Regions from separate parts of the Homo sapiens genome. Here region 2 is linked to region 1. A link means that fine-mapping ties the variant in region 1 to the expression of a gene that starts in the linked region. Tissue or cell type: whole blood. Region 1 holds a variant in brackets; the other region holds the start of a gene. All regions are shown on one strand. Distances are between the middles of the regions. Region 1 overlaps ZNF496-DT (ZNF496 divergent transcript). Region 2 holds the start of ZNF496 (zinc finger protein 496).

Evidence for each region.
Region 2: ZNF496 starts here. The variant in region 1 is fine-mapped to the expression of ZNF496 in whole blood (TOPMed, PIP above 0.99).

Annotation. Positions count from the first base shown.
Region 1 is chr1:247,354,052-247,369,352 of GRCh38, reverse strand. The region is part of intron 1 of ZNF496-DT (ZNF496 divergent transcript); the gene reads right to left. Among named protein-coding and RNA genes, the nearest start is that of ZNF496-DT, 30 kb to the right of the region's middle. RefSeq lists enhancers at 6,175-6,719, 11,324-11,623. The variant A/C (reference allele first, on the strand shown) is at 9,153.
Region 2 is chr1:247,325,389-247,340,689 of GRCh38, reverse strand. It overlaps ZNF496 (zinc finger protein 496), which reads left to right and starts at 8,823. Exons shown (of 10, transcript NM_032752.3): 1 at 8,823-8,900; 2 at 9,043-9,258; 3 at 10,609-10,724; 4 at 11,075-11,501; 5 at 11,824-12,007. The coding sequence starts at 11,112. It overlaps ZNF496-DT (ZNF496 divergent transcript), which reads right to left and starts at 8,636. Exons shown (of 3, transcript NR_168399.1): 1 at 7,444-8,636. It overlaps LOC124904574 (a long non-coding RNA gene), which reads left to right and starts at 3,954. Exons shown (of 2, transcript XR_007067004.1): 1 at 3,954-4,236; 2 at 4,526-4,815. RefSeq lists silencers at 2,929-3,223, 6,849-7,143, 8,256-8,735, 8,866-8,975, 9,546-9,785 and enhancers at 4,377-4,877, 8,649-8,943, 11,330-11,832.

The DNA of each region.
Region 1 (15,301 bases):
GCAAAATTTATTCAAAGACCTGTGCTAACATTCTTAAATATCTGCTAGCCGTAATAAAGAAATCAATGTTCTTTATGTTCTTAGCTCCCACAATTTAGCCTAAATATCTGCCCTGGCATGCTTATACTGGTCCAAGTAAGCATTAGGTCACAGCCTGTTCCTCTTCCTTATTTGAAGGTGTTTTTACCTTTCTCAGCATTCCACCAGTTACTTCCTCTTTCCTTTGTTCCCCTCTACCTTTGCCTCTTTTAAAAAGTTCTAAGTTGCTAGCCAATCGAGACAAATACAGAATGTGAGGTCCCGCTCCAGCCAGTGGAAACCAGACACAGCAGTAGGGAGGACGCGTCAGGTTATAAATGACCCTGTCTCCTTTGTTCAATGCACTCTCATGGCAAAACTGCTGATGAGTGTACCCTTTCTGCAAGAAGTAAAAATGGCCTTACTAAATAAATTAAATTCATGTTCAAGTGCTATTTCTTTACCGCACCAAGGAAGAAACATTTCAAACAGCATCTGTCTGTGCAATCCAATCAAGCAGACAGTAAAACTGTTTCCTTTTCCTTTTCCAAATTTAAGATAAATGGAAAGAAAGAATTTATTTATTTATTTAGAATCAGCTCTGTTGCCCAGGCTGGAGTGCAGCGGGACAGTCATGGCTCACTGCAGACTTAACCTCCTGGACTCGAGGGATCCTCCTGCCTCAGCTTCCTGTGTAGCTGGGACCATAGGTGCACTCCACCATTCCCTGCTAACTTTTTGATTTTTTTGTAGAGATGGAGTCTCAGTTGTTGAGGCTGGCCTCAAACTCCTGTGTTACTGGAAAGGGGTCCCAATCTAGACCCCAAGAGAGGGTTACTGGACCTCCCACAAGAAAGAATACAGGGCGAGTCCATAGAGTAAAGTAAAAGCAAGTTTATTAGGGAAGTAAAAGAAACAAAAGAATGGCTACTGCATAGGTACAGCCGTGGTGTGAGCTGCTCAACCGAGTATACCTACAGTTATTTCTTGATTGTATGCTAAACAAGGGGTGAATTATTCATGAGTTTTCCGGGAAAGAGGACTGGATTTCCAGGAACTGAGGGTTCCTCCCCACTTTCAGACCATATAGGGTAACTTCTGGATGTTGCCATGGTATTTGTAAACTGTGGTGGTGCTGGTGGGAGTGTCTTTTAACACGCTAATGCCTTATAATAAGTATCACATAATGAGCAGTGAGGATTACCAGAGGTCACTTTCATCAGCATCCTGGTTCTGGTGGGTTTTGGCCGGCTTCTTTACCACATCCTGCTTTATCAGTGGGGTTGTTGTGACCTGTATCTTGTGCTGACCTCCTAACTCATCCTGTGACTAAGAATGCCTAAGCTCCTGGGAGCCCAGCAGTTCTCAGCTTTTTTTTACCCAGCCCATCTTCAAGATGGAGTCCCTCTTGTTCAAATATATCTGACATCTGGACTCAAGGAATCCTCCTGCCTTGGCCTCCCAAAGTACTGGAATTACAGGGTGAGCCACTGCACCCAGCCAAGAAAAGCATTTATACAGGCTAATTTTAGACACACAAACGCTGGTTTATTTTTGGTATGACTATTTCATGTTGTCTGATCTTTTTCCTTTCAGAAACATTCTTTTTTTTCCTGTGTCTCTGTCTTGCTGTCATAAAGATTCCCTCTCATCTTGCTTAATATCTTTTATGTCAGGCTCTCAAGAGCCTGACTTGTGACCAAGTGGGGAGCACTCTTGCTTGGTCTCTACCAACCCGGGGAGTGGTTGGGGGAGTGGCATGACTTTTGGGACTTTTGGGTCATGTGTGTTGGTCAGTTGTATTAGTCCATTTTCACTCTGCTTACAAAGACATACCCAAGACTGGGAAGAAAAAGAGGTTTAATTGGACTTACAGTTCCACATGGGCTGGGGAAGCCTCAGAATCATGGCAAAGGGCAAAAGCCACTTCTTACATGGCAGCAGCAAGAGAAAATGAGGAAGAAGCAAAAGTAGAAACCCCTGATAAATCCATCAGATCTTGTGAGACTTATTCACTATCACGAGAATAGCATTGAAAAGACCAGCCCCCGTGATTCAATTACTTCCCCTTGGGTCCCTCCCACAACATGTGGGAAATCTGAGAGGTACAATTCAAGTTAAGATTTGGGTAGAGGCATGGCAAAACCATATCATTCCACCCCTGGTGGCTCCAAATCTCATGTCCTCACATTTCAAAACCAATCATGCCTTCCCAACAGTCCCCCAAAGTCTTAACTCATTTCAGCATTAACCCAAAAGTCCATAGTCCAAAGCCTCATCTGAGAAAAGGAAAGTCCCTTCCACCTATGAGCCTGTAAAATCAAAAGTCAACTGGTTACTTCCTAGATACAATGGGGGTACTGGTATTGGGTGAATACAGCCGTTCCAAATGGGGGAAATTGGCCAAAACAAAGGGGTTACAGGGCCCATTCAAGTCTGAAATCCAGCAAGGCAGTCAAATTTTAAAGCTCCCAAAATGATCTCCTTTGACTCCAGGTCTCACATCCAGGTCACACTACTGCAAGTGGTGGGTTCCCATGGTCTTGGGCAGCTCTGCCTCTGTGGCTTTGCAGGATACAGCCTCCCTCCCGGCTGCTTTCATAGGATGGTGTTGAGTGTCTGCAGCTTTTCCAGGTGCATGGTGGAAGGTGTTGGTGGATCTAGCATTCTGAGGTCTGGAGGATGGTAGCCCTTTTCTCACAGCTTCACTAGGTGGTGCCCCAGTAGGGACTCTGTGTGGGGGCTCCCACCCCACATTTCCCTTCTGCATTGCCCTAGCATAGGTTCTCCATCGGGGCCCCACCCCTGCAGCAAACTTCTGCCTGGGCATCCAGGCATTTCCATATGCCCTTTGAAATCTAGGCAGAGGTTCTCAAACCTCAATTCTTGACTTCTGTGCACCCACAGGCTCAACACCACATGGAAGCTGCCAAAGCTTGGGGCTTCCACCCTCTTCTACCCTCTGAAGCCACAGCCTGAGCTGTACATTGGTCTCTTTCAGCTGGGACACAGGGCACCAAGTCCCCAGGCTGCACACAGCCTGGAGACACTGGGCCTAGCCCACAAAACCACTTTTTCCTCTGGGCCTCCAGGCCTGTGATGGGAGGGGCTGCCATAAAGGTCTCTGACATGGCCTGGAGACATTTTCCCCATGGTCTTGGGGATTAACATTAGGCTCCTTGCTACTTACTTGCAAATTTCTGTAGCCAGCTTGAATTTCTCCCCAGAAAATGGGTTTTTCTTTTCTCTTACATTGTCAGGCCACGAATTTTCCAAACTTTCATGCTCTGTTTCCCTTTTAAAACTGAAGGCTTTTAGCAGCACCCAAGTCACCTCTGGAATGCTTTGCTGCTTAGAAATTTTTTCCATCAGATACCCTAAACCATCTCTCTCAAGTTCAAAGTTCCACAAATCTCTAGGGCAGGGGCAAAGTGCCTTCATTCTCTTTGCTAAAACATAACAAGAGTCAGCCAGACTCGGTGGCTCACGCCTGTAATCCCTGCACTTTGGGAGGCCAACGTGGGTGGATCACCTGAGGTCAGGAGTTTGAAAACAGCCTGGCTAACATGGCAAAACACAGTCTCTACTAAAAATAGAAAAATTAGCGGGGAATGGTGGCGCACACCTGTAATCCCAGGTACTCGGGAGGCAGAGGCAGGAGAATTGCTTGAACTTAGGAGGCGGAGGTTGCAGTGAGCCGAGATGGCACCACTGCACTCCAGTCTGGGCAACAGCCAGTTCCCAACAAGTTCCTCATCTCCATCTGAGACCACATCAGCCTAGACCTTATTGTTCATATCACTATCAGTACTTTCGTCAAAGCCATTCAACAAGTCTCTAGGTAGTTCCAAACTTTCCCACATTTTCCTGCTTCTTCTGAGCCCTCCAACCTCTGCCTGTTACCCAGTTCCAAAGTTGCTTCCACATTTTCAGGCATCTTTTCAGCAATGCCCCCCTCTACTGGTACCAATTTACTATATTAGTCTGTTTTCATGCTGCTTACAAAGACATACCCGAGACTGAGAAGAAAAAGAGATTTAATAGGACTTACAGTTCCGCATGGTTGGGGAGGCCTCAGAATCATGGCGGAGGGCGAAAGGCATGTCTTCCATGGCGGCGGCAAGAGAAAATGAGGAAGAAACAGAAGCAGAAACCCCTGATAAACCCATCAGATCCCATGAGACTTATTCACTATCATGAGAATAGCATGGGAAAGACCAGCCCCCTATGATTCAATTACCTCCCCCTGGGTCCCTCCCACAATACGTGGGAAATCTGGGGGATACAATTCAAGTGGAGATTTGGGTGGGGGCACAGCCAAACCACATCACCAGTCTAAAAAGACTGGGAACCCCCTGACAAGTAAGATACTAAGCAGCACACTCTGCTCTGAATGTGCCGAGCACTCAAGGTCATTTGTATTAAGTCCCATACATAAGGGACTTTTGTCATGGCAATGCTTGTTTGTCCCTGTTAGTCCTGGGAAAGTCCAATCACAGGAGTTATCACAGATTAACAGGTCTGTGGCTGGCAGCCTCTCACAAATTTGTGGGATACTTAAGGCACCCCATGAGTAAACACCATCCTTAGCTGTCTATGGCAGCAAGCCTCTTGCTAGCTTAGCCTATTTCTTTTTTGAGACAGAGTCTCGCTCTGTCACCAGGCTGGAGTGCAGTGGCATGATCTCGGCTCACTGCAACCTCTGCCTCCCAGGTTCAAGTGATTCTCCTGCCTCAATCTCCTAAGTAGCTGGGATTACAGGCATGCGCCACCACATCTGGCTAATTTTTTGTTATTTTCAGTAGAGATGGGGTTTCACCATGTTGGCCAGGCTGGTCTTGAACTCCTGACCTCAGGTGACCTACCTGCCTCAGCCTCCCAAAGTGCTAGGATACAGGTGTGAGCCACCAGGCCCGGCTATCTTAGCCTATTTCTGAGAATGTGTTTTTTGGGAAGGATCATAGGAGGGGGTGCATCTTCTGCACTCATTTTATTTTATTTATTTTATTTTATTTTTTGAGATAGAGTCTCGCTCTGTCTCCCAGGCTGGAGTGCAGTGGCATGATCTCGGCTCACTGTAAACTCCGCCTCCTGGGTTCACGCCATTCTCCTGCCTCAGCCTCCCGAGTAGCTGGGACTACAGGCGCCTGCCACCATGCCCAGCTGATTTTTTGTACTTTTAGTAGAGATGGGGTTTCACCATGTTAGCCAATATGGTCTCGATCTCCTGACCTTGTGATCCGCCTGCTTCGGCCTCCCAAATTGCTGGGATTACAGGCGTGAGCCACCGCACCCGGCCCATTCATTTTAAATACACCACAAACACCTATGCTCTTCTAAACCTGGAAAGCTACCTCCAGAACTTTCCATAAAAAAATGATTATTGGTTTGAGTCACTTATGGAATAAATAAATTGGCTGGAATCAACCTAGGTGCCCATCAACAGTGGATTGGATAAAATGTGGTACGTATACACTACGGAATACGACACAGCCATAAAAAGCAACAAAACTGTGTTCTTTGCAGCAATGTGGATGCAGCTGGAGGCCATTATCTTAAGTGAACTAACGCAGAAACAGAAAATCAAATACTGCATGTTCTCACATTTTTTTTCTTTTTTTTGAGACGGAGTTTCACTCTTGTTACCCAGGCTGGAGTACAATGGTGTGATCTCGGCTCACTGCAACCTCGGCCTCCCAGGTTCAAGTGATTCTCCTGCCTCAGCCTCCCAACTAGCTGGGACTACAGGCATGCGCCACTACGCCTGGCTAGTTTTGTATTTTTAGTAGAGACAAGGTTTCTCCATGTTGGTCAGGCTGGTCTTGAACTCCCAATCTCAGGTGATCCGCCTGCCTTTGCCTCCCAAAGTGCTGGGATTACAGGCGTGAGCCACCGCACCCGGCCACATTCTCACTTATAAGCGGAAGCTAAACGTTGGATACACATGGACATAAAGATGGAAACAATAGTCACTGGGACCTGCTAGAGCAGGGAGAGTAGGAAAGTAGGAGAGTGAGAGAGGGGAGAGGAGAAGGGGAGAGTGAGAGAGGGGGAGAGGAGAAGGGGAGAGAGAGAGAGGGGGAGAGGAGAAGGGGAGAGTGAGAGAGGGGAGAGGAGAAGGGGAGAGTGAGAGAGGGGAGAGGAGAAGGGGAGAGTGAGAGAGGGGGAGAGGAGAAGGGGAGAGAGAGAGAGGGGGAGAGGAGAAGGGGAGAGGTGGAGGGAGAGGGGGACAAGAGTTGAAAAAGTACCTATCGGGTACTATCCTCACTACCTGGGTGAAAGGATGCTTTGCACCCCAAACCTCAGCATCATGCAATATACCCATGTAACAAATCCACACATGTATCCCCTGAATCTAAAATAAAAGTTGAAATTTTGAAAAAACATAATAAATAAGTTAAAAAGTTATATTTTAAAAGAAAACTTTTTAGAGAGCTCTTGTCTCTTTTTTTTTTTTTTTTGAGACAAGGTCTCACTCTGTCGCCCAGGCTGGACTGCAGTGGCGCAATCTCTGCTCACTGCAACTTCAGCCTCCCGGGTTCAAGCAATTCTCCTGCCTCAGCCTCCCCAGTGGCTGAGATTACAGGTGCGCACCACTATGCCCAGGTAATTTTTTTTTTTTTTTTTTTGTATTTTTAGTGGAGACAGGGTTTCACCATCTTGGCTAGCTGGCCTCGAACTGCTGACCTCAGGTGATCCATCTGCCTCAGCCTCCCAAAGTGCTGGGATTACAGATGTGAGCCACCGCGCCCGGCCACTAAGAGCTCTTGTCTTAAACAGCTTTCTTATTGGTACCTATGAAAAGACACAAAAGGAATATATAGCCTTAGAAACTCCCTTAGCAGGATTTCTTTTTTTAAGGCAGAAATCAGATTTACAACTAAGTTATAAATCCTTTGTGTAGCTGGATTCACTGATTTATGCCTGTAATCCCAACACTTCGGGAGGTCAAGGAAGGCTTGCTTGAGCCTAGGAGTTTGAGAACAGACTGGGCAACATAGGGAGATCCCATCTCTACAAAATAAATAAACAAATAAATGAGTCAGGCATCGTGACACACGCCTGTGGTCCCAGCTACTCAGCCAGGGGTAGGCAGGAGGACTGCTTGAGCCTAGGAGGTTGAGGCTGCAGTAAACCATGAGCACACCACACTGCACGCCAGCCTGGGTGACAGAACGAGACTTTGTCTCAAACAAATATATATATATGATATAAAAAATATATATTTCTAACATGTATATGTTATATATGTATAATATATATCACATATAATATATATGTCACATATATAATATATATATCACATATATAATATATATGTCACATATATAATATATATGTCACATATATATATATATATATATATATATATATATATATATATATATATAGTGCGCCCAAGCTGCCTGTTTTGGATCCCCCTGGGATTTACAAAGAAGACGGGCCACCCTAATCTAGGGCCTGGGTTCCATGCTTTCACCACCACAGCCTGGATTTGATTCCCAGTCAGGAAACCAGACTCTTGGAAATGCAAATCTTTTAACTCAGGACAAAACAAATAGAAACATTTGTAAAAAGTTAGTTTGGTATTTGCATAACTCTGACCTTTTGGGGTACCCTTTCACTTTGCAATCCTGTCTATTCCCACAGACAGCTTTTGACTTCCCATCTTACAAACTGCCATGCAATCTTCCGTCTGTGGGAGATACGGGTTGTCAGGCCTTTGTGTGCAGTCAGCCAGCTGAGAGGCTGAAACCCTAGATAATATGGCCAGACAGTAGCCCCATTTGCAGCTACTAAAATTCTCCTTTATTTGAGCTGCCTGGAGTGGTCTGGATCTGAGCAGGGTTGCAACTTTTGCCTCCTCTCTGGAGACCTTGGTGAAAGCCGTGAAAGGCTTCTTGGTTCTGGTCTCCTTGGTGCTTATTTCACTTGGCGTTGAGTCATTTGTTCAGGTATACCTTTGATAGAAAACTGGTTTGTATTTAGAGTGTGATAGCAACTTTTTTCTTTTGTCTCGCTTCCTCCCGTGGGCAGAAGAGACGTGTGTCTCCCACCACTGCTGGGAAGCTGAAGAGAGGCAGGGCTCCTCCCATGAGCAGAGCGGGTGGGAGCGCTCCACAGCCGAAATTCTTTCCACTCCAGTGTTAGGCCACGTGCTCATGAAACAGAAAGCTTGCTGCTTGTGTATTTTCAACACACCCTTCTGCTTTTTCTTTTTTCTTTTAGTTTTTGGGGGATTTTTCCCTGGCAGATATATAGAGCAATGCTTTTTCTCTTTGGATCCTGTTCCTACCCTGGGAATTCTTTTCAGTCAACTGAAATTTTGTTAAAAAGCAATTTTATGTTCCTTCCATCTGTTCACTTTTTTGTTGTTGTTGTTGTCGGCATGATTTTTACTGAGAAAAATGTAAAACATCCTTGGCCTTTTTGGGAAGTTTAAAATCTTCCCAAATTGAGCCCTCTAAGAATTGTTTTCCCATTTACTGTTGGCCCTTCTTCCTTTCTGCCACCTTCAATAACACACGAAGAAATCAAGAGGGAACTTCTAGCAGTCCTGAGACCCCTTGAGAAACCAGAAAAAGGTGCCATACACCCTCCTTTTGGGGGTCTTTTGTCTTCCTCACGGAGCCCCAAGGGTCATGGGCAGGTTACTCTCAAGTCTAAAGCGCCGCAGTCTTTTGCATTGAGTTCCCTGATATTTTCATTTTTTTGAGACACAGTCTGTCTCTGTCACCTAGGCAGGGGTGCAGTGGTGCATTTGTGAGAAACACACTCACCCATCCAAACCCAAAGAATGGACTTAGAGGCACAAAGAACAGCGAAAGGGAGACTTTTCATAACGGTCTTGCGAGATCGGGTGTCTGGTGAGCAGGCACAACCAGGGCGGTCACAACGGGTAATTTATGTCCTAGCACACAAGTCCCTCCCCCAGTTCCTCACTGGTTGAGTACTGTGGGGTTACAATCTTCCCGGACATCGCCTAACTTTCATTATCCCCCTTACAAAGTTATACCCCGTCCTCTTCCCCACTTAAGTTTTGATTTCCCCATAACAAAACTTTCTTCCCTTTTATGAGCTGACCACACCTCTACATTCTGTCCACTTACTGTGACCTTCTGGGTGCATGAGCC[A/C]TGTGGTTTCTTACATTTGCAGGCTGGCTGCCAGTGCTTAGACTTATCATGCCTTGCAAATGGACCATTTAAAAGGTTTTCTCACCAATTCCCTCCTCTTTTCTATTTACTTATTTTGTTCTCATTTTCTTTTAAACCCTTTTGGGCCGTGAATCGCTCCAGAAGTTGTTTACTTTCTTCCTCATAGGAGAGTGAGTTTAATTTGCTTTCTAATAGTGGCAGGTTATTTTGCTGGTAAGTCATGGGCATTTGTTTATTAATAGCTGTTTTAATTAATTTCTGTGCTAGTCCCCTCACACAAGGGATAATACAACATTCCACTGCTATTAAGAATCCTGCCACAATTATGAGAGATATAAGGATTGAAGCTACCATTCCTTTCCATTTTCCAAATCAGCCTTCTAGCCAACCCGTAAATGGGTCATTAATTCCGAGCATTTCTTCCAGTTCGTTGGCTAGAGTTGTTAGTCCTTGTAAAGCTTTTGTGATGGTCCCATTTGGGGCAGTATTGCTGGGAATGAAAGTACAAAATTTCCCGCCCAGCATAACACACACGCTCCCTTTTTCTCTAGTATCATGTCTAGCGCAAGTCTGTTTTCCCAGGCCATTTAGCTGGTGGCATCTAACTGGCTAGCCACCCTTTGAGGGCATCCCAAGTATAATTGATGAATTCCTGTTGATTATAATAGATGGAGTTAATTTAATTCGCATTCTTCTTAATAGTTGACCAGCAGAAGTGTCCTGACTTTAAACCCAGCACCTACTGCGTTTCAGGCCTTCAATTTATTAGGCAACCCTACCCCCACCAGGGTCTCCTATTGAGTCAACATACACATTGGGATTAAAAGAATTTGTGAAATCTCTCTGGTTTCAGTGGCCATGTGTATTTTGGGGTATCTTATGGGATGCCAGGGTGAAGGGAATGGCCAATGAGACTAAAGCACAAGTCCTGGTCCCATTGGACAGTAACAGGTTACGTAGGTTCCTTTTCCCATAATACTACCAGACATCAGCCCGGGGTGTATGGAGAGCTGAGTAATTGCCATTGCTCAACTCACCAGTGACGTTTAGGATGTGGGTACAAGTTGAGAGTTCTCCCATAGGCTTATGGAACTCTGCCCCCTGTCTAGAGAGGCAAGAGGAGTAGTTCATGTTCTCTGCAGAGAACGAGGGTATTGCTCTGGGATCTGAGCTCCGCAATGCAGGAAACAGCAATGAAAGACTCTTACAAGTCTTACTTCTCCTTACTTATATCATTGTGCTGGTATGCAGCCAACATGCAACACATTCCTCTAGAATCACTATTCCATCCCAGGGGAAACGGAACCACCTGCGCCTGAGGTGGTCCTGCAGCACACGCGTAGCAGTTACTTTTGCTGAGGGCTTGTACCGAAAATATGACCCATTTGACCCAGGCATTCACATCCCTATACCCTGTCTCAATTTCTAAGGTTTGCCTTAAATCCTTTACCTCAATTATTGTTACCATTTTAGGGTTAATATTTGGTAGACTAAAGTGTTTATTAGGGTCTGGGGTTGGAGTAGTTCCAGGCAAATGGGAGGTTGAGTTCTTGATTAGCCTGAGATCAAATCGACCTGGGGGTCTTTCCTTGTGATGTCTTCTCCTAACCCATATACCTGAGATGCTACTTTTGGTTCTTGGTCTAGAAAGGCTGAATTGTCAAGGGTGATGAGTATAGGATGGCATTCTAAATTCTGGCAGTTATTTGGTGGGGAGCGCTTGGACAGAGGTAGTTTATGCTTCAAGGGTTTCCAGTTTGGAGTTACCCACACCATGTTTACTGTCCAACCCTGAAATTGGGTAGCGCACCATACATCCTCCCAGCTGGGGAAGGGTGATGCCCTACTGCAACCTGCATCTGGTTCAAGGCAAAGAGATTTATCTGCCTGCGAGAGCTGTCTCTGATTTTCTAAATTCCCACAAGGTAAAACCTGACAGGCATCAAATCTTATAGTTTGGGGTGCTACCGTCTTAATCATATTAATCACCAACCTGATTGAGCAGTGGGGAGTCCCCTGCCAGTTTCCATTTTGACCTTCTGCTCTTTGTATACTAACCCATCCCAGCCTTATTACCTTTCAGAAATGCAGCCAGCCCACGCTTTCTTTCTAAATTTTTCTCAGAGTTAACTTTAAGTGTTCGTCAGGTGACCCATGCACTTCCCACTGTTCTTTCTCCTTCCCTTTCCAGGTCTCTTTTACCGGCCTCTTGATTCCAGTGTAGTGAGTCCACCCCCATTCAGCTGTTCGCAGGGCTGTCTCAGGGGCAGAGGCACTTGACAGGGACCTTCCCAGCTTGGGTGGAGCTTGTCTTCTTTCCAAATCTTAGTCAGCACCAAGTTGCCAGGCTGGAAGTAGTGAACCATGAACTCAAGAGGCAGAGCTTGCGTCAGAAGACCTTTTAACCTGAGGGATGACAGGGTGGAAGATATGGCCAGTATATCATTTCTTAAGAATTGGTTTTTGGTTTCCATAGTGGGAGGATCTGTAGCCCTGCCCAAATATGGGAGTCCATATAATAACTTGTAGGGGACAATCCCAAGTCTTTTCTGGGGACTGTCCGAATCCTAATCCTAAAGCCATGGGAGATATTTGGTCCAAGGCACTTTAGTTTCTAAGTTTAGTTTGGTGAGATGCTTTTTGAGAGTTTGGTTTATTCTTTTTACCTTTCCACAGGATGCCAAGGGGTGGGATAATCCCATCAAATTTGTAAACCTTCCATAATTCCCCTTAACACTCTTGAAATAGCTTCCTTTCTAATCTCGTGCGGTTCAAAGAAATCACTTCTCTTTTAACAAAGGGTAGCCTGAAAGTTCAGGCTATAAACTACAGATAAACAACTTAAGCATAGAAGGAGGCGGGGGATGTCTCCTGGGTAAACACCAAACTTCACACTCCCACAGTCGGGCCCAGTATAAACAGTGGGCCTTAATAAGCACATTCCTTTCCCTTTAGGCACATTAAGATAGGGAAGCTAAAGCTGACTGGGATGGGGGGGCGGTGGGAGATGCCTGCAGCTGCAAAAAGATGGCTGGGAATAGACACAGAATCTCTCCCTCCCAGATAAGCAACACAAAGAATTAGAGTATTGGCCAGGCACAGGCTCAAGCGTGTAATCCCAGTACTTTGGGAGGCTGAGGCGGGTGGATTACCTGAGGTCAGGAGTTCCAGACCAGCCTGGCCAATGTGGTGAAAGCCCATCTCTACTAAAACTACAAAAAGAAATTTGCTGGGTGTGGTGGCACGCACCCAGCTACTCAGGAGGCTGAGGCAGAAGAATTGCTTGAACCCGGGAGGTGGAGGGTGCAGTGAGCTGAGATCATGCCATTGCACTCCAGCCTGGATGACAAGAGTGAAACTCCATCTCAAAAAAAAAAGTATTATATGGTGACATGCAGGGTTCTAACAGTCCATTTTTAATTAATCCCTCTATTACTGGTTGGAGATCTTTTCTCCCTTCAACAGAAATGGGATATTGTTTTCTGCAAACTCCTCCTGGTTGTTTTAGTCCAATCTGTAAGGCTGTGATTCTTAAGTGTCCCCGCTTGCCTTTCCCAAACCACAAAACGGGACTAATTTTTCTTCCCTCCTCCTCTGTTAGGAGGCCCATCCTTACTTTCATTTGTCCTTTCTGTGTATCCCTAATCCTAAACTGAATCTCACAATCAGGTCTCTACCCACTAGGTTAGTTCCTGCTTCAGGAATATATAAGAGTGACCCCTCAATGTGTTCTGGTCCCAGTCTAATTAACATTGTCTTGAATATCAGAACCTGTAATCCCTCCCCTTTTACGCCTAATACTTTCAGTTTTTCCTTAGAGAGTTCTGTACCCTTTGGTTTGTGGATTAGGGAGGAGTGAGCTGCCCCAGTGTCAACCAAAAATGTCACTTCTTCTCCCTAAGGTCCCGCCTTCCAATTTATCAAGGGTTCTTGGTGGGACCTACTCAGAAGGAAGCCCTGACCCCCATTGTATTCATCAACGGTCATGAGGGGGATCATCTCTTCTTCTTTTTTCCATTGAGGACATTCTCTCTTAAGATGCCCTGGCTTTCCACACTTGTAACATCTAGCCACTCATAGTCTTAGGAGGTTTCCCCTGCATTTCCTTTCTTTCTCTGTGTCGAAATCTATCATTCCCTTGTCTCATTTGAGGGGGATCTTGAGCTAATCTTTTTTTGGCTACCTCTTCCACAGTGGAAATCATGATGTTCCCTTTCTGTTTCTGCTTCTCTTCCCCTCTTTTCACAAAGACCTTCTGAGCTTCACTCAGTAATTCCTCAATCGGTTTCTCATTCCATCCATCAATCTTTTGTAATTTTTTTTTTTGTAATGTCAAGCCAGCTTTTAGTAACAAAGTTAATCTGCAACAGGCCTTGCCCTACTGGGTCCTCCGGATCTAATCTGGAGTATTTTCTCATCTCTGAGCCTCTGCAGGAATGTGAAGGGAGTTTTCTCTTTTTCTTGTTGAATCTCAAATGCCTTTGAGACATTTTGTGTCCTAGGAGTGTACTCTTTGATCCCTTGAATTACTAGTTTCCTGAGGTCCTGCATTTGGGCCCAGTCCCTGGGATCATTATTATCCCATTCGGGATCAACATTTGGAAATTTTTGTTTGGCTGGCAAGTCTCACTGCCCAGGAGGGTGTTGCTTCTCCCCACTGGTCATGGCCACTCTCCTAATCATTCCCCTTTCTTCTCCCGTGAACAGGATATTCATGATAGACATCATTTCAGCCCAAGTGTAAAAGCTGGGTCCTAGGAATTGGTCCAGCTGGTCTGCTAAACCCAGGGGATCTTCTAGGAGTGGTTTCATTTCCTTCTTGCAATTCCTAACTTCAGTACTTGCAAGAGGAGTGTTTACAAAGCCAATCTCTCCCTGTCCCATGGGAACTTCCCTAAGAGGGAACATGCTAGATGCCTGCTGTGTGGAAGGGATAGGGAAGTTCTCAATATCCCTCTTACACTCTTGTAATTCTTTTCTTAAATTTGGATAAGGATTTAAAGGAGCAGTTGGCTTGGCTCCCCTGTAGTCTCTGGGTCTTTCTTCCTCTAACCCTCCTGCTGCCCCTTGATCTTCCTGTCCCCTTTTTTGTGAGACGTATGAAGGGGCAAGCACGATAGGGGGTCCCAGGGCTTTTCACTGGGTGAGGGCTCTTCACCAGGCTCTTTTTCTTCTTTTTTGAGGGGGATCATGGGGGCTAATTCCTTGATTCAGCAGAGAGTAACCTATCTCTTCTTGTGAGGATGAAGTTTTATTATTCACAGAGAGAATTAAAGCTTAGAACACAATCCTCATCTGAGCCAAACTTAGGCCAAAAGACAGAAGGCTTATGAATGGGGTCTTTGGGCCAGACAAAACAGCAATACTTTATCATCTTTTCCTTTTCCTTGTCCCTGGTTCGAGGGTTGTTCCACCAAACCTGCAACAATCTCCCCAAAGGACTATCCAGGGGAATGTCAGACGGAGTCTCTTTGGCTCCCTCTTTCCTTTGGCTCCCAGGCCTAGAATTCCTGTTTCCCATTTTCTGCCAGTCTCTGCGTCTGAGTTTTTCCCTGTCTACTCAACCCCCCTTACTGGAGGTTTCTTGCACACCCCGAGACCTCCAAAAATGCCCCATGACCAAGGCAGTACTTACAGTCCAATTTTCCTTCCTTGGCTGGTGCATGAGTTTGCCTGGTTCCCGCAGTGCCTGCTTTTCTCCCTGTGTTGCTTCTGCTGCCTCCTGAATAATAGTCTTGGGTTTGTTTATGCCTTCTATGGGAAGCTGGGATGCCCAGATAGAGCGGGCCACCTAAATCAGGTGGGACACATCTCCCCTCTCGGCCAAAGTCCCACTTCACACAGGCACATGGATCCCAGATGGGCCCCCATGCTTGTGAGAAACACACTCACCTGTCCAAATCCAGAGAATGGACTTAGAGGCCTGAAGAACAGTGAAAAGGAGACATTTAGTAACGGTCTTGCAAGATCAGGTGTCTGGTGGGCAGGCACAACTGGGGCAGTCACAACAGGTAATTTATCTTCTAGCACACAAGTCCCTCCGCTAGTTCTTCATTGGTCGAGTACTATGGGGTTACGATCTTCCCGGATGTCATCTAAGTTTCATTGTCCTCCTTGTAAGGTTATAC
Region 2 (15,301 bases), 29 kb after region 1:
GATTCAAATGCCAGTCTCTTTGGGAAACACCCTCACAGACACACCTGGAGTTACTCTTTTACCAGCTATCTGGTCATCCCTTAGCCCAGTCAAGTTGACACCGAAAATTAATTATTACAGTGTTCAATGGCAGAAGGGCAGATTAAGATACACTAAAATGAGAAATGTCATACACTATAAAGTTTAAAAGTTTATATGCAGCTAATAGAGGAGGAAGAAGGATTGTGATGAGCAAGCACCTGCTAAGTATCTCTAACTCTGCGCTGGGTATTTAAGTGCCAGATTTTGTTCTATCCATTTGGGCCAGGTGTATCAACAGTTTATGAATGGAAAAATTAACCCATCATCTCCCACCACTTAAGCAACACAGATAGCAAGGGGGCAGAAATAGAATTGCCCTGTATGTGGGTCTGACAGAGGGAAAATACCCAGGGTAGGGACAGCATGGCTTAAACTGCACCTTAGTGAGCAGGCTGGAGAGAGATGCTGAGGTCAGGAAGAAGTCTGTGCTCTGAGCTGGAATCAGGACACATATCAGGGTGTGAGATCCAGGATGAGGTCTGTACTCTGGGCTGGAATCAGGACACATATCAGGGTGTGGGATCCAGGATGAGGTCTGTGCTATAAGGTAAAATCAGGACACACAACAGGGTCTGGGATCCAGGATGAGGCCTGTGCTCTGAGCTGGAATCAGGACACATAACAGGGTGTGGGATCCAGGATGAGGTCTATGCTCTGAGCTAGAATCAGGACACACATCAGGGTGTGGGATCCAGGATGAGGCCTGTGCTATAAGGTGAAATCAGGACACACAACAGAGTCTGGGATCCAGGATGAGGTCTCTGCTATGAGATGGAATCAGGACACACATCAGGGTGTGGGATCCGGGGTGAGGTATGTGCTGAGCTGGAATCAGGACACATAACAGGGTCTGGGATCCAGGATAAGGTCTGTGCTCTGAGCTGGAATCAGGACACACATCAGGGTGTGGGATCCAGGATGAGGTCTGTGCTATGCTATGAGGTGAAATCAAGATATAGGTTAGGGTTTCTAAGTGGGATTGCACAGAAAAAAATAAATCTAAGACACATTGAGGCTCCCAGACTTTTTATCAATTGGCAAATACTAGATGTGAGGAGAAAAATGTGGAGTTGTCAGAGGTGACTTGAATTTCAGAAAATGCTATGGAAAGAGTAAGGTGGCAGGAAGCTGAACAGAATTGATATTTACTTGTTTTGTTTGAGACAGGGTTTCACTCTGTTGCCCAGGCTGGAGTGCAGTGGCACAATCATAGCTCACCTCCTCGGCTCAAGTGATCTTCCTGCTTCAGCCTCCCAGGTAGCTGGAACTACAAGTATGTGCCACCTTGCCCAGCTAATTTTTAAATTTTTTGTGGAGATGGGTTCTTGCTATGTTGCCTAGGCTGGTCTCAAACTTCTGGACTCAAGTGATCCTCCTGCCTTGGTCTCTCAAAGTGCTGGGATTATAGGCATGTGTGAGCCACCACACCCAGCCAGATACTTTTTAAATTTTCCTAAGTGACATGGCATACAAGGAATAGCTGGACATAAAATTCCAGAACTGTGAGTAAGGATGTTTTCCCCCTTTACTAGATCGACCAAAACACTGTCCTACAATACCAGAGGAGTTTACTCTGGTATTTACTCACCCAAGAACCAATCACCCCATTTGAGGCCTGCAGCAAACCCTTCTTTTCTGGAAGGCAGAGTCCAAACACTACTCAGGGCTCCAACTTCCCGGGATGGTGGTGAGAATTAGGCAATACAATGCAGATAATATACCTAGCAAATGCTGAACATATTCCGTACAAAGTCTACTTCCCCATCCCTCCCTCATTCAGACACACACACATACCCCTGTAACACTGGGTCCCTGACCACTATCCTCTTTCTCTGAACATCAGTTTCCCTCCTGAAATTCCAAGGATGCTAGGATTCAATGCATTTAAGGAGCAGACAACAAAGACGATCACAAAGGATCAAACTCACATTCATGGAAACATCTGCGGAACTGTAACATCAAGGCGTTTCCCTCCTAAGAGCATCAAAACCTCTCCAGGCTGGGCGCGGTGGCTCACGCCTGTAATCCCAGCACTTTGGGAGGCCAAGGCAGGTGGATCACGAGGTCAGGAGTTCAAGACCAGCCTGACCAACATGGTGATACCTCGTCTCTACTAAAAATACAAAAATTAATCAGGCGTTGTGGTGGGCACCTGTAATCCCAGCTACTCAGGAGGCTGAGGCAGAAGAATCGCTTGAACCCAGGAGGCAGAGGTTGCAGTGAGCCGAGATGGCGCCACCGCACTCCAGCCTGGGGACAGAGCGAGACTCTCTCAAAACAACAACAACAACAGCAACAAAAACAAAAAAAAACCTCTCCAGGAGCGAATGTGAGAAAATCTACAAGATCTGTAAGGACTGAGAAAAGAGAACAGGCAGCCCTGCCTTTCATCAGGCTAAGAAGACAGACGAGTAACCCACTGTGCATTCACAGGACACGTGGTTTTCCCCAAGGTCTTGCCAAAGCTTCGAAACGCCACAACGCCCGCTTGACAGATGGACTCCTGCTTTCTAACCAAGAACGCCCTAGACCCACTTGCTGCACTCATTTATGACTGGGGGAACGCAACAACCAAGGCATCCTTGCCTCCTGACGGCCCATCACCCTCAGTGAACCCCTACTTCTTCTGAGCCCCCCTCTAAACAACAACCAGTGCAGATGCGACTCCCACTTCCCTGATACATTATCAATTATTAAAACTTCATACTTCCATGAGGCCTCAGTATCACACACAGGCTGTGAGTCCCCCAAGCAACTAGGCACACTGGTGTGATAAGCCTGGTCTCTGCCTCCAGGTCCCCTTCTTGCCTTCCCCCGACTGTGACCCAGCGACATTCCAATGCACCAGTAAAATCCCCTCATACCTTCTGCTTGTGTGCCCCACCCTGACCCCCCGACACAGGTACTTGCCCACGGGTTCTCTCTCTTTCTCGACCCCCCACCTGCACTGCAGAGCCTGGGCCCTTGGCTCTCATCCAACACGGCCCTGCACGCATGCGGTGCCTCCCTCTCCAGGACCTTGGAGCAGCATAAATCCTGTACTTTCATATCATTCTTGGACTGTAATTGCTGCAGCCACTTGGGAGTGATTCTTAAAGATCCCACAAGGGAGACTTACTCCCACACTTACATCACACCTGACATCATCCTCCTCCTCCCCTCCCCCTCTTCCTCCTTCTCCTCCTCCATCCGGAGCAAACCTCGCAAAAATACTTCTCCCATTATCAAGCCATATTCCAGCCTCCTCTGGGTGCCCTCCCCCGCTCACTGAATCAAGACGATAAATCTGGTCATTTCTGCAAATCTGAATTTGTCAAGGCACAAGCTTGTCCCTGATGGTCCAGCTGAATAAACATGAACAACCCAATGCTCAAGAATAGCTCCAAATACCAATGTTTGGGGTCTTTATTTTCTTGACTGTAGCATCCAACGCTGATTTCCAGGAAAAAGATGTCATCTCTTTAGTGACAACTTGGCCACTTAAAAGAGGTACTTTCACTGGAGCCCCTGAGAGTGGGTTATGTCAGCCTACCTGCAAATCTCAAAGTGTTTTTGCTTTCAAAAAAAGAAAAAATAAAATAGATGAACAGGCCTCTGTGACAGCTGGGAGGCCTCTATAGTGAGAAAATGTCATCATGCAAAGCTGTTTCACTGAGCAGCTTCTCACTGACCCCTTTCCACAGGCCACAATAAGGGACCAGATTAATGCCTTGCTGTCCATGCCCCCTAGATGTCTGTGACTAACACAGTAAGAACTAGCACTACTATTCCTAGGACTGTTCCTAAAGCCACAGTTTATTGAGTATCTACTATGCCCAGCTTACAACAGAGCTTCTCACATTGCAAAAAGCATGCAAGTCCCTGGTGCCTGGTTAGCCGCGCAAGCTGTGGTTGGGGCCTGTGGGTACTGACAGCTCCCAGAGAAGGCAGGTGTGGTTGGTCCAGTGATGGGGCTTCACATATTTGCACACCTGTATTTGTCATCAGTCTACAAGCATATTATGCGGAATGATGACCTCCTCTGCAGGGGGTGATGTCACAGTGGAACGGCTGCCCACCTGGGGGGCGATGTCACAGTGGAACGGCTGCCCACCTGCAAAGCACTGGGGCTTTAGGTTACACATCACATTTCCTTGTGCACACTTCACTTTCCAGGTTATATATAATTCACCCTTTCCTTTGTTATCGTCCATTCACCTTTCCACTCTGCAAGATGGCCGTCTCACGCCCTCTTCCTCCTGCTCTCACATTTCACCCTCTCTTTCTCCCTGTCACTTAAGGGCCCTGTGTAGCAGTCAGGGTTCTCCAGAGAAACGGAACAAATAGCATGTGGAGTGGGGGGAGGGAAGGGGGTGGGGATAGAGAGCTAGAGATCAATAGAGAGAGATGAGGGAGACTGTTTTCTTTTAAGGAACTGATTGGCTTGCAAGTCTAAAATCTGCAGGGCAGGCTGCAGATCCAGAAAGCCGAAGCTGCAGCAAGTCGGAAGGCGCGCCGCAGGGGGAGTTCCTTCCTCAGGAGACTGCAGTCTTTGCTCTTACGGCCTTCGACAGATTGGATGAAGCCCGCCCACGCTATGGAGGGTAACCCGCTGCATTCAAAGTCTACAGATTTAACTATTAATCATATCTAAAAAACAGCCTCACAGAAACACCAGACTGGTGTTTGAACAAAAACTGAGTACCACAGCTAGCCAAGTTGCCTCATAAAATAAAACGTCACACTTGCTCCTTATTTTACTGGAGTGTTGGCAAAGTTGGAAGAAGCCTGCCCCAGGCTCTCCCTGCCCAGATGCTGTGGACATGCCTCAGGTCCAGAGGCAGCCTTCCCTGCCCTCCGGCTCCCCGTGGGCCCTGGGTGCCAGCCCTCCCTCCTCCAGGCGATGCACTGCAATTTCTCCCATCTTTAAGATGAGACCGTTTTTCTCCACAGGGCTGTGTCCACTCTCATCTCCCTTCTCTTCCAGAAAGTGCCCTAGCCCAGGAGCTCCACTGTCTGCTTTGCTCAGGGGCCTCTCTACCAGATTCAATGGGCAGTGTTCTTTCCTCATCGGATTTGATCTTGGCGCAGGATTTATCCCCCTGACCTCTTTCTCTCCTTGAAACACAGGTGCTCACTTGGATTCCAGGGCTCCACACCTGCAATTTTCCTTTTATCTCAAGGCGGCAGCAGCTCTCCCTACCCCCTTCTCTTGCCCTCGTCCTCCCTCACTTTCCTCCTCCTACTTCCCCTTCTCTCCCTTCTCCTCCACTAACCCCTTGGGCTCCCACGGTCCAGGGCTGGCATTTCGCAGGGTCTGCCCTCCCTGGGGCTGCTTCTCAAAACACACTCAACCCTCTCAAGCCCCAGCTCCTGCTACATACGGTGACTCCAGATTTCCACCTCCAGCCACAGCTTTCTATCCCAGAGGGTCATCCCCACTTGTCTCCTGGGCATCTGAAAACCAGCAAGTCCCAAATCCACCAATTCAACCCCAAACCCAACCCCTTCCTGGAAACCTGCTTCCTTGCATCTGCCATCTCTAGAAGGCCTGTTCAGTCACCCAGTTTCAGCCCCAGTCACAGCCGTTCCTCACTCCTCTAACACAGGCAGCATGCCTTCAACACAGAGCCTGGATTGGGCCTACTGTTCACCAGCTGTGCCTCCACCAGTCAACTCCAGGAACCGAGCATCTCCTGCCGGGATCTCTACAACGATTCCTAACAGAGACTCTGCTTCATCTGTTCTGCACAGTGATCTTGATAAAATCAAGATTCCGTTAGGCCACACTCCTACTTGAAACCCTCTAATGACTATAACATCTGGTGACCTGGTTCCAGCCTCACCATTCTCTCACTATTCCTCTGCCCAGCTGAGCAAGCACACGCTGTTTCCTCTGCTGGAATACTCTTCCCACACACCTCTGCTCAGGAGCCCCCCACCTGCTCTCCACTCAAATGTCACCTCCTGACAGAGGCCCTACCTGAACATCCCCAGCACACTCTTCCCCACCATGTTGTATTTCTTTCATGACACCGATCACCAATGGCGTTATATTGCAGAATCGCTGATTTATTATTTGATTCCCCTCCCAACTCCTTGGATCATTCTTCTATGGTCTCCCCATGGATCGAATAATCATTGGCACATAGCAAACATTTCATAAAAACAGATACAATTGGCAACATTATATTCATACAAACCTAATACACGCACACACTGGGCATGATGATGGTGCAGTCCTTGAGCAGGGTTTACAGGCAGGATCCTCTTCCCGATGCTTCACCCGTGGTATCTGATACAACCCCACTTCATTCAGAGGCGAACACCTTCCCCACGGGCTCCTGTGCCCCCACCCAGCTCTATGCCATCCCTCTCCTCTCACTCACCAGCCCACCTTGCTTCGCACCGCTCCCCCTTAGGGCCTTTGCTGTCAAGGTGGTCTCCATGTGTCAAACAGGGACTCTGACCAACTACTTCATCTCAAATACCACCTTCACAGTAAGGCCTGCCTGCCCTCCTCTTTAATACCATGACTGTTACCAGCCCCTCCCCAGCACTCCTGACTTCCTGATGCCTCTCCACTTTCCTTTTTTTCTGTAGCACAGATCAAAGAGAGCAGGTCATGTTACTGATTTTGCTTCCTCCAATAGCCAGTTGTGTTCACAGATGTACCTGAGCACCTGGAAGGCTGGCTGCCTAGCACTCATGAGTGTACAGTAGGTACTCGGTATAGGTTTGCTGAATGACTGAATCTTTGATCCTGCACAACCATCCAATGAGGTAGACAGCATCATCCCTGTTTTCTGGATGAGGAAGTTGAGGTACAGAAAGGTTATGTAGGCCTGAGGTCACCTGGCTAGGAATTCATAGGGCAGGATTTAATCCGGGTGCCTGAGTCCAGAACCTTGACTCTGAAGCCCTGTTTTGAGCTAAATGCAGCAGCAGCATAAACAGCCCGTTTTGTGCCTCAAAAGGTGAACAGTGGGAGGCACAGCTGGGCAGGGACGTGTCAGGTCAGGGGAAGAAACTGAATTGGGTAGTGGGGATTAATTGGATGCTGTCTGCCAGCAATTTCTGCCTCCTGCATTTTATCTGCTTTAGGGTTGCAAGGGGCAGAGCTATGAACACGGATGCCCACTCAACAGCCAGTTCCTGGGCCAATCAAAGGGTTGGGAGCTGTAGCACCAGAGCTCTGGAACCCCACAGACTAGGATGTTTGCTAGAGCACCTAAGCCCTACCAGCCTTTGATGACCCCTCGGTTCCTCCCAATTCCTCTCCTCCATGTCACGGTTCCTGGCTGGTGTTCCTGAGAGTGGGCTGTACATGAGTTCTGTAAATGCCAGTCCAGTTACGTCAAAGGGGGTGGCTCTCACTTGTACCTGTAGGCTCCAGCTAAGATCTGCGTGGCCCTGCCCGGCATCTGGCTGTCATCCGGGAAACAATCACTGTTCACAAACAAGGGCTTCACTCCTTCGCTCGCTCCATCTCCTGCTAAAGTCAGAATGTGAACACTGACAAACAGCGGCTCCCAGTAACTCTGCTAGTCAGAAGTGATTATTCCAGCAGTTCAGAGGAGGAAGTGGCGGTGCCCAGGGCCACGGGATTAGAAGAGCAACGGAGCTAAAGGATCCCGTGCCTCAGTCCAACCACCTTGTTCCCACTTACTCAGCCGGGCCACTTTCTTTGGAGAAACTGATTTCCTTCTGCTTGCCCTTGAAAGGGGATCCGAAGGAAATCGGAGCTACCGGCAGTAGCTACCCTCCGGAAGACGGAGAATCTTCTCCACCTTCTCCTCTGCGTAGGAGAATCCAATTTCGGTGCAGAGCAGATGGCGAAGGGGCCATGGGAATCAGACCTGCTCAGGGACCGGGTTCGCACTTTCTCTCAAGCTCTGGAGCCTGAAAAATGAGCATTCCCCGGGGACGACCCATGTAAGAATTTGGGCTATATTCAGCATAGTGCAGCGGCCAGCAGCCCTGTCTCGGGGTGGGGTCCGGAGGCCCCCATTTCTGCTTGCCCCTCACTGCCACATAACCTTGGGTCAGAGTCCCTCATCCTCTCCCTCCGCCACTGTGCACAGCTGCAACCGTGTTCACTTCAGCGAGCAACGAGCCCCGTGACCCCCACTCAGGGTCAGGACTCACCGCAGCCCCTCTGCGCAAGCCCCGAGGCTCTGCGTGGCCTCCGGATGCGCGGCCTTTCCTAACCCGGGGACTCCGCACGTGGGCGCCAGGCCCGGAAGGCGCGGATGTGAGCGCTACCTTCGGCGTCCCGCAGCGGCAGGAGGGGCTGGGCGGCCCGGGCTTCGGCTGGCGGCGGGGGGGGGGTCGCAGGGGAGTCTGAAATGAGGCGGCCGACGGCGCGCGGGGCCTCCTCTCTCCGCTCCATCCCGCACCCCCAATTCCAGCTTCCATCCCCAGCCGCGACTCCCGGTCGGCCGTTCCGGGCGTCCACTGGCCGCGTGTCCTGGGGGCGCCAGAGAAGGAGAACAGCGGAGAAAAGAGCCCCGGGCCGACCTTCCGGACCGGCGGGCCCGCGGGGAAGCCCGGGCGCGGCGACGTGGCTGACCCACAAAGCCCCCGGCCCGGCGGCCAGGCCCAGGCGCGCGCGGAGCGGGGCGGGCCGGGGGTGTCGGATGTCACCCCCAGCGCACACCTCGGCCGGGGGGCGGGGGAGCGAACCACTGAGATGCGGAGACCTCCCCAGTCCTAGAGCGGAGCAGGAAGTGTCCCAGGGGAGGGAGCCGGAGGGCTCCGGCCTTTCCTTTCCTCGGCGTCCGGCGGGCTCCCGCGGCGGCCAGGCCTGCGCCGCCCGCCAACAGGGACGCGCCGCGGCGGTGAGTGCACCCCGGCTCCCGCGGCCGGCCCCGCCCCGCCCTCCTCGGCCCGCGCCCGGCCTCCGCGGCGCCGCCTCCCAGCCCAGAGCCCAGCGCTCAGGAAGGTGCGGGCGGGGGAGAAAGCAACACCATTGTTTTTCAGGCGCCTCCATTTGCCCCCGAGCCGAGCCGTGGCTTTCCGGATGATCGGGAGACGCGGTCTGGACGGGCCGGGAAAGGAGCCGGGCGCCTGCGGAGACCCCGCCTCAGCGAGTACGCCCGGCCGGGCGGGCTGGGAGGATGAGGACGGCTGCCCTGGACTTCCGCCGCCACAGGAGGGTTTTCGGCCGGACGCCGGGAGGGAGCTCCAGGCTGTGAGGTGAGGAGCCCGGAGCCGGCGAGACGGGAGACGCGCGTGTGAGGGAGACCGAGGGCGCGGAGGGCGGGCTCCCCCTTCCCTGGCCCACAGCGACCTTCTCCTTCCCTTTCTGCCGATCCAGCTCGGTCCCTCCTCCGCGAAAGGCTGGGAGCTCGCTCCGCCCCTGCGGGGCCCTCCTCCGCCTCACTCACGTTAGTTCATTCATCAGGCATCTCCTCCGAGCCTCCGACGCGCCAGGTGCCGCCGTGACAAAGACGGACGCGGCCGTCTGGTTGGAGACGATCCGAGTGGCAGCCCGGGTGGGCGCCGGTGCTCGGGGGGGCGGGCCTGAGTAGTCCTGGGCGCTGCAGGTGTGTGATGGGCGCCGCAGGGGGCCGCCGAGCAGGGCGGGCGGGGCCCACCCCGGGCTCCAGATGCCGGAGCCGCCCTGGAAGCGATCCGGTGGTGGGGAGCGCTGTAATGCGTCCAGCCCGACGCCGCCACGGCCCCCATATGGGTTTCTGTGTATGTTGTTACTTTGGAAAGCAAAGAGATTCAGAGCAGTGGGTGTTTCTGGAACCACTCAGTTGTTCCGTAGCTTTTCTGGCATCACTTGTCTTTCTGTGAAATGGGAGTGAGGCCCGAGTCCCCCTTCCCACCTTGTGAGCTGTTGGAGGTTAAGACGCGGCCACGCTGGACAACCTCGTGCAGATGGGGGAGTGGCAGGCACTGCCGGTCCTAAGGATCACAGAGGCCTGATGGCAGAGAAGGGGACTGTGAGTGTCCCCATGTGCCCTTTCACGGGCCCAGCGTTCTAAAGTGGGAATCATAAACACCAGGTATACTGGTTGCTGGTCTCTTGCCACCCTAGTTGTGGCAAAAGTGTCGGCTAGTTGTCTGCACACCAGCGGGGAGGTGTAGGGACCCCTGAGTCCCACCTTGGGGGTGTGGCAGCTGCAGTGTCCAGGGGTTCTTTGAGGGCTGAGCTGTGCAGTGACGGACCCACTTTTCTGTCCTGGCCGAGGAAGGGCTTTGGCGAGTGTGCAGTTGCCTTCAATGTGGTTTGAAGAGGGCAAGGATAGAGAATAGGGTGGAGGCGAGGTTGAAGGTCAGGGCAGAATTGGCAGAAGGCTCATAGGAAACCACTGATACTTCTAGATGCAGTGTTATTTGTCCCTGGTAGACTGCATGTAGCTGTCTCATGTGATGTTTTCCCTTGCCTCCCATTGCAGACTCTGCTGGGCAAAGCTGATTCTGGCTGGGTTGTCCATCCAGCACGCAGCACCATCAGCCCTCTGCCACCAGAAGGGTGGATTTTCCATTCCTGGATGTGCTTGAAGGCTCATCCGATGCATGTCTTTGTCATTCCAGCTCCATTTGTAAAGGTCTTAATAACAAGAACAGTGACTTCGGCTCCGGAGCTTCAAGATAGTGGCCTGCTTGGCCTGCCCATCTCGGATCTCTCCAGGAGGACCCAGCCACCCAAGGTACCAGAGCGTCTTGATTACATCTGCATGTGGCGCTGTTGGTTTCCTGGGATGCTCAAAACAGCAGTGTCACGTTGAAATGCCACCACTTTCTCCCAGATTTCCTGTCTTGTTCATCCAGTCACCCACTTAACGGGAATCCACACGTAATGGTACTGATGGGGGGAGGGCATCTTTCTGTCTGTTTCATCCTGTGTGTAAAGACCAGCCACACCAACACTCCCTACCTTTCCCAGGGCTTCTCCAAAGGGCTGGTCTCTGAGGGCATTGACAGTTTCCTTGTCACTGTCCCCCAGAAATGACCACAGGAGACCAGAACACTGAAGCCAGTGATTTCTGTTTGGAAATAGGGTCGTCTTCTGCTGCTGACCCCCATCAAATCCCATCATGCCCACAGCCCTGTGCCCCCGAGTCTTGGCTCCGAAGGAAAGTGAGGAGCCCAGGAAAATGAGGAGCCCACCTGGAGAGAACCCTAGCCCCCAGGGGGAGCTTCCCAGCCCCGAGTCCTCTCGGCGTCTCTTCCGCCGTTTCCGCTACCAGGAGGCGGCGGGCCCCCGGGAGGCCCTGCAGCGCCTCTGGGACCTGTGCGGGGGCTGGCTGCGGCCTGAGAGGCACACCAAGGAGCAGATTCTGGAGCTGCTGGTGCTGGAGCAGTTCCTGGCCATCCTGCCCCGGGAGATCCAGAGCTGGGTGCGGGCGCAGGAGCCTGAGAGCGGAGAGCAGGCTGTGGCCGCGGTGGAGGCACTGGAACGGGAGCCCGGGAGACCCTGGCAGTGGGTGAGTAGAAGAGGTGGGGCTGGGACGGGTAGAGATCTGGTACTTAGACACTTTGGCTGGGCCATGCATGTGCTGGCTGGGGAATGAGGAGTTCCATCGAGAGCCATTTACTTTGGTTAGGTCCAGACTAGAGTTTCCTAAGAAAGCCAGTTTTACTCCCTGAAGGCTCTAATTTGGGCATGATAGTGTCGTGCCCCTTTACAGCCCAGTCCAAGGCCTAAGTTGAGCCTTTGATGGTCAGCTGTGGAGTGGATGGTCACCAGGCCCAGGGAGAGATGGGACCTCTTCCCCTAGCCCTGAAAAGCTGTCTCTGGGATTGCAGCTCAAGCACTGTGAAGACCCTGTGGTGATTGATGATGGGGACAGCCCTCTGGACCAGGAGCAGGAGCAGCTGCCGGTAGAGCCCCACAGCGACCTTGCAAAGAACCAGGATGCCCAGCCCATAACCCTGGCACAGTGCCTGGGGCTCCCAAGCAGACCACCAAGCCAGCTCAGCGGGGACCCAGGTATGCAGCCCAGGGGAGTGTAGCAGGGGTGATCTGGGGAAGTGCACACCCCATACTGTGCACTGGGTGTGGTTTTTGTTAAGCTGATGGCTTTTACATCAGCAGTGTTCTCGTGTCCCCGAGGTGCTGTGAGCTGTTGTCAGGGTCTGAGTCCCTTCCTAGAGCAATTAAATGAGAACCTCATCAGGATGTTTGTCCTCTTCATGGTTCTAGAGCCTCTCAGAGCTAACGCTTCTGTAGGTGGGTGTCACTGAGGTGGTGCCCTCTCATCTCTTCGAGGGTGCATCTCTGCAGGATTTGTCAGTTTGATGACAGCTGGGGACTGCCAGTGTACAGCTGGGGCCTGCTGCATGACTGGAGCATGGCCATTTCTTGTCTCTTGGAACCTCTGTTTCCTTGGCTAAACAACTCCTGTTTACAGGAGTATTGTGATGCTGCGAAGAGATGTAGAAATACTTAGGAGGACACAGGGTGGTGTCTAGTGTGTGGGGCCAGAACATCAGCTACACATAGTTTGAGTATGTATATGAAGTACATGGTAGCTACAGGAAAGTAGTTTTTTCATCAGATAAACTTAGATTTGAATCTTCTGGTTATGACCTGAGGCATGTTTCTAAACTCTGAAAGCCTCAGTTTCTTCCTCTGTCCAGCAGAGATAGTAATTACCTTTTTTGGGGTTTTTGGACAATTAAATGAGATACAACCTACAAAAGGTTGAACACAAGGCCTGAGGTGCCCAAAACTTTAAGTACATATCATGGGAAACCAGCGCCCTTGGGTTGAAGGAAGTCTGGCCCGTGGGTTCCTCTGGGTGGACTTGCCACGGTGCTTTATATGTACAGTGGAAAGAGAGTGTCTGGGGGGCCAGGGGGGCTTTCTTATGACTCTGGGTGGACTTGCCATAGTGCTCTATAGGTACAATGGAAAGAGAGTGTCTGGGGGGCCAGGGGAGACTTTCTTATGACTTGCAGAAGTTGTGTTTGGCATTATGATAAGCTTTTCAGTAATAAAACCAAAATGCCTATTAAATTTCTGTGTGTGGAAAAACTATATTGACTTCTGTACAAATCACATAAACTCTTCAGCCTTTTCTTGCTTATAAATCAAGTTTGGTGTGTTGTTGGCTGCCATAACAAAGTACCACAGACTGGATGCCTTATGTAACAGAAATGTATTCTCTCACAGTTCAGGAGGCTGGAAGTCTGAAGTCAATGTATCAGCAGCCTTGGGTTCTTCTGAAGCCTCTCTCCTTGGCTTGTAGACATGCCTAATGTTAACACTAAGAGAAGTTTGCAGATAGACATTTAGAAGGAGCTAGGGGTTGGGCGCGGTGGCTCACGCCTGTAATCCCAGCACTTTGGGAGGCCAAGGCGGGCGGATCACCTGAGGTCAGGAGTTCGAGACCAGCCTGGCCAAGATGGTGAAACCCCATCGCTACTAAAAATACAAAATTAGTTGTGTGTGGTGGTGGGTGCCTATAATTCCAGCTTTTCGGGAGGCTGAGGCAGGAGAATCACTTGAACCTGGGAGGCGGAGATTGCAGTGAGCTGAGATCACGCCATTGCATTCCAGCCTGGGTAAAAACAGTAAAACTCCATCTCAAAACAAAACAAAAAAAAAGGAGCTAGGAGGGGAAGTCTCTTATGCCACTGGCTCTCTTTGGGACCCGTAAAAACCCATGAATATCCGGCCCTGAAAGCTGACAACAAGCTTTGTGCCAGGACTCTTGATGACGGGCGGTTTTCTTTCAGGGAAAGGAAGAGGAAGATGTTTACACTAAGAGAAGTTTGCAGAGCAGGTGTAACAGACACCTTCTCTCTCTGGGTCTCTTTATGTGGTCTTTCCTTTGTGTGTGTCTGTGTCTTAATCTCCTCTTCTTATAAGTACACCAGTCCTATTGGATTAGGGCCCACCCATATGACCTGATTTTATCTTAATGACCTCTTTAAAGACCCTATCTCCAAATACTCAGTCGCATTCTGAGGTACCTAAGGGTTAGGGCTTCAACATAGGAATTTGAGAGGGCCATAACTTAGCCTGTAACAACAGGTATAAGGGAAGCAGCCAGTCGCCCACATAATGCACGTGCAAGTAGCTTGGGTTATGCAGGAAGTGGGGGGCTGTGAGAGGCCTTGTAGTGGGGTCTGGGAAGGCATGCAGGTGGAGAGGAAGAAGTTTCAGGAACTACAGTAGCCTGTGCAGTTGCTTCTTGATAAAGTTCTGAGATAAGCCAGCAACCACAGATGGGCTTTAGGAAAACAGGGCCAGCTCTCCCATTTCCATGAGCAATAATCAATAGGCAAAGTAGGTATGATGAGAGTTAGCAATCAGGAAAACCTTAACTATTGGGACAGTTCATCATTGGAATGCACTACCTATCAGAGCTGTATAGTTCCTCATCTTGAAGATCTTCCCCAAAAGCTAGATTTTGTGTAGGGTCTGCAACTCTCCGAAGTGATTCTTGAAAGGGTCCATGTATTCATTTATCGGGGCCAAAAGTAGGGTGGGACTACATATTCATATATATATATATATATGTGTGTATATATATATATGTATGTATATATATGTGTGTGTATATATATGTGTGTGTATATATGTGTGTGTGTGTGTATATATGTGTGTGTGTGTGTATATATATATATGCGTGTGTATATATATATATACATATGTCTCAGCCTCCCAAAGTGTTGGGATTACAGGCGTGAGCCACTGTGCCCGGCCAACATGATTTTAAACTTGGAGAAGGGAGGGCTAGGGATGGGAAGGAGTTAGCCAGGTTACCCAGTTAGGGGGCATCTCCATTCATATATATATGAATATCTGGGATAGCTACATATCCCAGAAGGTGGCAGGTGTGAGGAAGCAGAACTAAAACACCACCTCCTAGCCAGGCATGGTGGCTCATGCCTATAGTTCCAGCTACTCAGGGGGCTGAAGCAGGAGGATTGCTTGAGGCCAGGAGTTTGAGACCAGCCTGGGCAACATAGCGAGAACCCACCTCTAAAAAATAAAACACCCCCTCTGGGAGACATCGGTCAAAGAGTACAAAGTTTCCGTTAGGTAAGATGAATAAATTCTGGAGATCTATGGTACAGCATGGTGAGGTTGATGAAAAATAATGCATCTTATACTTGAAAATTGCTAAGAAAGTAAATAAGAAATGTTCTCGTCACAAAAATATATGAGGTATAGATTTGTTAATTAGCTTAATTTAATCATTTCACAATGTATAGTTATCACATTGTACAGTTTTCGTATACAAAATACATACAATTTTTGTCAATTATAGCT